2 linked regions of the Homo sapiens genome follow. The protein of the gene in region 1 interacts with the protein of each later gene in a pairwise test. Each region holds a gene or a part of one and is shown on either strand. Other genes may lie near its edges. The genes, in order: C10orf67 and TMEM19.

Evidence for each region.
Region 2: the proteins of C10orf67 (region 1) and TMEM19 interact in binary tests that used the Homo sapiens proteins (3 or more experiments, as listed by UniProt).

The regions. Positions count from the first base shown.
Region 1 is NC_000010.11:23,338,163-23,341,985, reverse strand, and holds part of C10orf67 (uncharacterized protein C10orf67, mitochondrial), read left to right. Parts: intron 1-3,823.
Region 2 is NC_000012.12:71,692,582-71,696,404, forward strand, and holds part of TMEM19 (transmembrane protein 19), read left to right. Parts: intron 1-3,823.

The sequences.
Region 1 (3,823 bases):
TGCCCAGGCTGGTCTCAAACTCCTGGGCTCAAGCAGTCCTCCAGCCTCGGCCTCCCAAAGTACTGGGATTACAGGCATGAGCCACCATACCCGGCCTGGACTGCAGATTTTAGAAATGGTGATCAGGGAAGGCTTCACTGAGAAAATGACACTGGGGTGAAGACTTGCAGGCTTGAGGGGGGAGCCCTAAGGATCTATCAGGCTAGCAAGTGTTCCAGGCAGAGAGAACACTGGGTAGAAAGATGGTGCCTGGATGTCCTAGGAGCAGCAAGGAGGCCAGTGTGGCTGGAGCAGAGAGGGAGAATAGTGGAGGTGAAGTCAGAGGGAAGGGGGACGGTGCCTGTGGCGAGGGACTTTAGACTACCTTAAGGACTTCAGCTTTTACTTTGAGATGGGAAGCCATGAGGGGATTGGAAAAGAGGAGTGACATGATTTGATTTATCCTTCAATGGGATTACTCTGACGGCTGTTTAGATAATAGACTATAGTGAGGACGAGGGCAGAAACAAGGAAACAGGAGACTATTACAATATTCCTCATGGAAGATGACCATGGGGTAGCAGTGGTTGGAGGTCCGGAGAGACTGTGATGAACAGGTAGAATGGAATTGCCAGTAACCCGGATGGGGAGGATAATGAGATGAACAGGTCTGAAGGGAATATCATAAGCTTACTTCTGGTCATTATATGTCAGCAGTGACTATTAGACATCCATTTAGGCTGTTAAGTAGGTAGTTGATTAGATGAGTCTGAAGTTAAGAAGAGAGGTTCAGCTCGGCTGTATCAGTTTGGAAATAATTAGCACAAAGATGGTGTCTTAAGCTGAGAGCCTTGGTGACATCAGCCAGGAAGTGAGTGTAGTTAGAGAAGTTTATGAGCCATGGGGCACATCAAAGTTCTGTGTTCTTTGAAGAGGAGTAAAAGGAAGCAATATTCTTATTTAGCCCTGAGAAATATGCCACAGTGAAAGTTTAACACACCTAATGTTGTCTTCATTGACTGATTTATTAATAAGCATTTGTAGGATGGACAATTCTAGGATTCAGTGAGAAGAGTCATTGCATTTTATTAATACATATTCATAGGTCTGTTTTCCAAAATAAATTAGGACGTTAATTTTGTATGTAATTTATTTTAAAAAACATAATTATCTTCCCCAAATTCTGTTTTATGCATAACCACCAACTTATTATTCAGAAATAGAATTGCTGAGACTATAAATAAAGACTGTGTAGGAACCACTTAGCTAATTTGTTGTGATGTGGGTTTCCATTCTAGGTAGCAGGGTTGTTAGCTAAAATTAGAGACATTTGGAATTTGAAGGGACACTGAAGAATAAATCTTCCTCATTCAGTTAGATTCTGAATGAGCTGGAACTTTTTGAGTCAGTCACATAAAGAGTTAGGACTGGTGAAATCGGAGAGTCATGGGCTTATCCTCATCAGGGAGTTAGAAGAAGAATCTGCCATTTCCGGCTGCCCCTCTGTCACCCAGGCTGGAGTGCAGTGGTATGGTCACAGCTCACTGCAGCCTCTGACCTCTGAGCTCAAGGGATCCTCTCACTTCAGCCTCCTGACTAGGTGGAGCCGCCGGTGTGTGCCACCAGGCCCAGCTAATTTTTTTTTTTTTTTTTTTTTGTATTTTTGTAGAGACAGGGCTTCACCACGTTGCCCAGGCTGGTCTCAAACTCCTAAGCTCAAGCAGTCTGCCCACCTTAGCCTCCCAAAATGCTGGTGTGAGCCACCACACCCAGCCTGAACCTGATTTTAAAATATCATATTGTATTATTGTAATATTATGGTACCAGAAGGAATACCTGAAAACATAATTTCAAGTTTCTAAATCATATCCTGAAAAAAAATTGGTAAAAACTATTCACACTCCATAAACCACCCATGATAGGTCTTTTGCTTAAAATGGGAAGGAACAGAAGAACATACATGTTCATGCTTAATGAAAAATGTGGCTGAATAGTAAAAAGGAGCCGCTTAGCACTGGGTAGGGTAAAGGATTGCATTTCTAGACTGGAAAAGTGAATCACTGGGATCTGTTAAATGTGCAGCAGTGTAGACTATACAGAAACAGAATTAGTTCCCATGGCTGTTTATATTTACTATATTGATGTAGCACTCAGGGTCCAGACAGGAGGCAGAAACCTCACTGCTAATTTCAACAGGGACTATTTCCTGTTCTCTGTTAAATAGTAAGAAGGATTTTTAACTAGTGAAAGGCAGTAAGGTGGTAAAAGAAGACTCTAGACAATACACTGATAGCAAACACAAAAAGCAGCTATGACCTCCAGGTCTGAGGAAGAGGAAACAGGGCAGAAACTAAGGAGTTAGAAGACCCGCCCTCAAAGGCTGAGATTAGGAATGATACCTCTTTGGAGAAGACATGGTGGGAGAGAAACTTGCCAGAGGGTGTGACAACTGCTGGTCTGCAGGGATGGCTTGCCCAGTGGCTGCGAAACTTGCTGAAAGGTACAGACAGGTCAAAGTTCCTTACCTAGCTGCGAGATCCAAATGTTCGTTCCTGGAAGTCCTGACTTTTAAAAGTTCTGCCTTTTTTTTTTTTTTTTTTTTTTGCTGCCTTTTTTCCATTAATCTTTATTACTGGGCACGGAAACACTAAGAGGCACCCCAAAGAATCCTCTGGGTTCCAGACAGAGTTCTCCTTGACTCCGTTGTTCACCAGCAACCCAATTGCCCCTTGGTATTCAGAATCAATCCACTTCAGCCAGTAGAGTGACTCCCTTTTCTGCCTTTGTTTCAGCAGCATAAGGATCACAAAGTGACCAGTCATCAGTGTCATCTAATTCAATAGAATTTCTGTTATGTTTTCTGCTGGAAACATTCTTCCCTTGTGAACTAAGACTTCCAAACCAGCAGATCCTAAAGTTGCAGAGACAGGAAACTATAATTTTGGGCGTGAGTTATGAGGCATAAGAGTGAGAGGTGCCTCTTCATTCTTGGACCTATGACTGTAGGAGAGATAGCACCATATACTGTTTCAAAGCATATACTGCATCCTGTGAGACAGAACTGCATTCTTTCATGGATTTGCTTCTCCCAAATATTGCTGGCAGTGCAGGTGTGTGCCACCATGCCCAGCTAATTTTATTTTTTTTATTTTTATTTTTTTGTAGAGACAGGGTCTCACTATGTTGCCCAGGCCATTCCTGAACTCCTGGGCTCAAGTGATCTTCCCGCCTCGGCCTCCCAAAGTGCTGGGATTGCAGGCGTGAACCACTGTGCCTGGCCTTAAATGAATCTTCAGTAAGCTATTTAACCTATTAGGCGAGCCACTTCTGGGTGATGGGTTATATGATAAGATCACTGAATTCCATGGGCATGAATCCATTGCTGCCTGTCTTTTGCTGTGAAATGAGTTCCTTGATGGGAAGTGGTGCTGTGAGAATACCGTGATGATGGATAAGATGTTCTGTAAGTTCATGCTCGGTGGTTCTGGCCAGTGCAGTATAGTCAGGGAATGCAAATCCATATCCAAAATAAATGTGTGTTCCGGTGAGGATGATGGAAGAAGTTCAGTGCTATCAACCTGTCGCTAGGTGGCTGGCTATTCCCTGTGGTTCATGCTGCCACGTTGGGAGCTCAGTATTGATCTCTGCTGTTGACTAGTTAGACACTCAGCACCTGTGGTAGCCAGGCCAGCCTTGGTAAGGGGAAAACCACATTGTTGAACTCCTGACACCATGGCCATTTTGTTCGAGGGCCATCAAGCAAGCAGGGGTGGCTGCAAAAGGAAACTGAACGATATCCACAGAGTGTGTCATTTTGCCTAATTATTTAACTACTTTCTCTGTA
Region 2 (3,823 bases), on another chromosome or scaffold:
AAGCATGTCCTTAACTTACTTTCAGTAGTAACTGATAGTTCTAAAGTCAGGTAGCAAAAATATAATATGCATGTTTCTAAAAATTATCCTAGTGCTATAACATGCCACTTGATCTGCTTGAGCATAAAGGAAATCTGCTAGATTATAAACTCCTTGAGGACAAAGAGTATCTTATGCTTCTGTGTCCCATGTTTCTTTGAATAGTGCTAGATACATAATAGATGATTAGGAATAGATGTAGTCTGATTTTTAAAAACCTTTGCTTTTTTCCTAATTATTTCATTCTATGAACTGTTTATCTTTTCTTCTTTTTTGTAAAAAAAAAAATTATGGCCAGGTATGGTGGCTCACACCTGTAATCCCAAAACTTAGGGAGGCCAAAGCAGGCAGATCACTTGAGCCCAGGAGTTTGAGACCAGCCTAGGCAACGTGGTGAAACCTCGTCTCTACTAAAAATACAAATATTAGCCAGGCATGGTGACAGGTGCCTGTAATCCCAGGTACTTGGGAGGCTGAGGCAGGAGAACCGCTTGAACCCAGGAGGCAGAGGCTGCAGTGAGCTGAGATCATGCTGCTGCACTCAAGCCTGGGTGACAGAGCGAGACCCTGTCCCAAAAAAAAAATTTTTTTTTAGAGGCAGGGTCTCGCTCTATCACCCAGGCTGTAGTGCAGTGATGCAACCATAGCTTAGTGCAGCCTTGAATTCCTGGGCTCAAGCAGTTCGCCTGCCTCAGCTTCCTGGGTAGTAGCGACTACAGGCACGCGCCGCCACACCCAGCTTTTCTTACTGTTTGGAACTTTTTGTTTCCTTAAGGATAAAAAAAAATCTAATGCTGATTTAAAGTATATCATAGTAGTTGGGAATATTATCCTAGAGTATGACTGCAAGTCACTTAAACTCTCAGTGTTGTACTTGTCCTGTCTATAAAATGTGAAGGAATAATGGTATCTATAGCAATGAATTATCATGAAGTGTTATCCATGTAAAATGCTTAGCACAGTACTTGGCATACAAATATTTTATAGATGTTAGTTATTATTACTGTTTTCCTTCCACTACTGCTATTCACAGTGATATAGTTTGACCATGTCTCCACACAAATCTCATCTTGAATTGTAGCTCCCATAATTCCCACATGTCAAGGGAGGGACCTGGTAGGAGGTAATTGAATCATGGGACAGGTCTTTCCCGTGCTGTTCTCGTGATAGTGAATAAGTCTCACGAGAGCTGATGGTTTTGTAAAGGGGAGTTCACCTACACAAGCCCCCTTGCCTGCCGCTATGTAAGATGTGACTTTGCTCCTCATTTGCCTTTGGCCATGATTGTGAGGCCTCCCCAGCCATGTGGAACTGTGAGCCAGTTGAACCTCTTTTCTTTATAAATTACCCAGTTTCAGGTTTGTTTTTATTAGCAGCGTGACAGCAGACTAATACACACAGTTATAAGAAATTTTACTTTGCTACATCATGACTTTAGTGTGTCTAGGATTTAGAAGTAAGAGTTACAGAACTTCCTCAGGATCTGGGTATTTAGAACCATTCATGACAGAAACATATACCTCAGTGTTAAGAGGATTAGGCAGGGGTTCAGTCACAGTCAGTCTCTAAGCTGCACACTGAAGTGGAGGGCTCTGGTCTCTTGGAGAGAGAGCGAGCATTGCCAGAATAAGGAGAGGGTCACATGAGGGGGATTTGTGGCAAAGTGTTTGTGGAAGAGCACAGCAAGAGGGGGTGTTGTCAGGAAAGGCCACTGGTGGTGCTCTGTGTGGTTTCACAAGGGTGGCCTGACCTCTTTTTGGTCACTATACTTTGGGTCTGGTTTCAGTCTTTCTGAAGTAGAAGCCTCACTCTGTCATGTACCCAGAGTTGATTAGAGCCTAGAAAACTGGTTGAGTGTTGCTCATTGTCATAAAGGATTGCTATATGAGCCAGAATGCCACTTCATTAATCAGATAGAAGAACTACCAGGCAGAAGAACACAAACATCACTGTTCAGGCATGCCCTATTCTTGTAGTCAGGCCACTTGAGAAGTCAGATTATAATTAGAAGGCTGCTTTGGTGAGTACAAAGTCTGAGAAACAGTTATGCAAATCCACAAATCAAAGGTTCCCCTCCCTTGGACATGGTTCAAGAAGTCTGCCAACCTCTGGTTCTTTTGGCCTTCACTTTCTACATTTTGGGCTAGCCAAGTAAATTATTATAGAATATGTATGAAGCAATAGGTGAGCTTTGAGTTTATTAAATTACTATGAAATTCCAGTCCTGCCTTTCTCTTTTATGCCTCCTGGAGATTACCCAGGTCACCCTGGTTGGAATTTGGGGTATAACTCTACTCCCATTGTCAGAAATTTGTAGACAGTGTCATTTTACTCCCCCAATGCTATCTGTTAGGTACAGAATTTACCTGTTTTAGGCTCACAAGGCAACCATAGTCCTCAAGTCTTCAAATTATTTGGGAGTGCCCTATTGTCATATATATGAACCCCTTATCAATGATATTTAGAGATCTGCAGGATGGAGAGGTAGAAAAGGTATGAACAGGAGATAGCAGTTACTAATCTAAAATGTAGACATAGGTAGGAGTTGCCAAAAGTTCCAAGCGATCTTTACACTGCATGAAAGAAACCATTCCCTCAAAGCTTGTCTTGTTCATTTCCTCAATCTGAAGCTGTCACCAACATGAACATTAATTGCTTCATGTGGTATTTTAAGGTGGCTGAAGTAAAAAGGATATAGATGCCATTTGTAACATCTCAGTGTAGGTTGTGTAGGGCTCTTCTACCTTGGGTTTGTTTAGAGACGGTGGAACAAATTGTTAACAGTGAATATTCATGAAGAGGAGGAGGGGAGACACTTTGACTTTCAGTTTGTATACTTCCATGTGTTTTGACTTTCCCCTTCAGTAGTTGCATACAACTTTTGTAATGTTTTAAAAATCAGTTGAAAAAACTTAAAGGTTGGATAACAATATTGTAATATTTATCATTATTATTGTTGAGCTTTTGCCACTGGAACTGTTGCTGTTATTAGTATCCATGATATTAGGTAACACTTATTAAGGACCTCTTACATCCTGGATAATATAATAAGCATATTACAAAAATTATCCCTGACTTTTTACAGCAAGCCGGTAAAGTCAGAATTCTGATTATTCTCATTTCACCAATGCAAAATTGAGACTTAAGGAGGTTAGGTAACTTATCCTAATCTTGAAGAGGTAAGTGAAGGAGCCACAGTTTGAACTCTAGACTGTTCAACTCCAGAGCTGAAGCACTTTGTTATTATTAATACTTTATATCAAGTTACCCTGTTTCTGTACTCTCGATTAAAAGGTACCAAAGTTAAATACCAGTAATTGAGTATCTCTGGAAGGGTCAATGAGTAACTATCTCATTGGTTATGATATCTGAACTTTGAGCTAAGCAATGGAAAGGGTTATTATAGAAAAAGAAGGCCAGGTGCTGTGGCTCACTCCTGCAATCCCAGCACTTTAGGAGGCCAATGCTGGGCAGATTGCTTGAGCCCAGGAGTTTGAGACCAGCCTGGGCAATATAGTGAGACCCCATCTCTATTTCTAATTTTTTTAAATTAAGATAATTTTAAAAATATTATCTAAAATATTATCTTACATTCATATGGCATTGCTTGAAAGGAGATTAAAATATGGTAAAAAATGTGTACTCAAAATGGCATTCAGTTTACTGCTTGCTAAGAATTTAATTGGTAAAATGCAAATTGCTAGAAATGTACATTTCAGGTTATAATATAAAAATAATGGAAAAAATCCATTCTTTTTTCACAGCATTGATGTATGAATTGAAT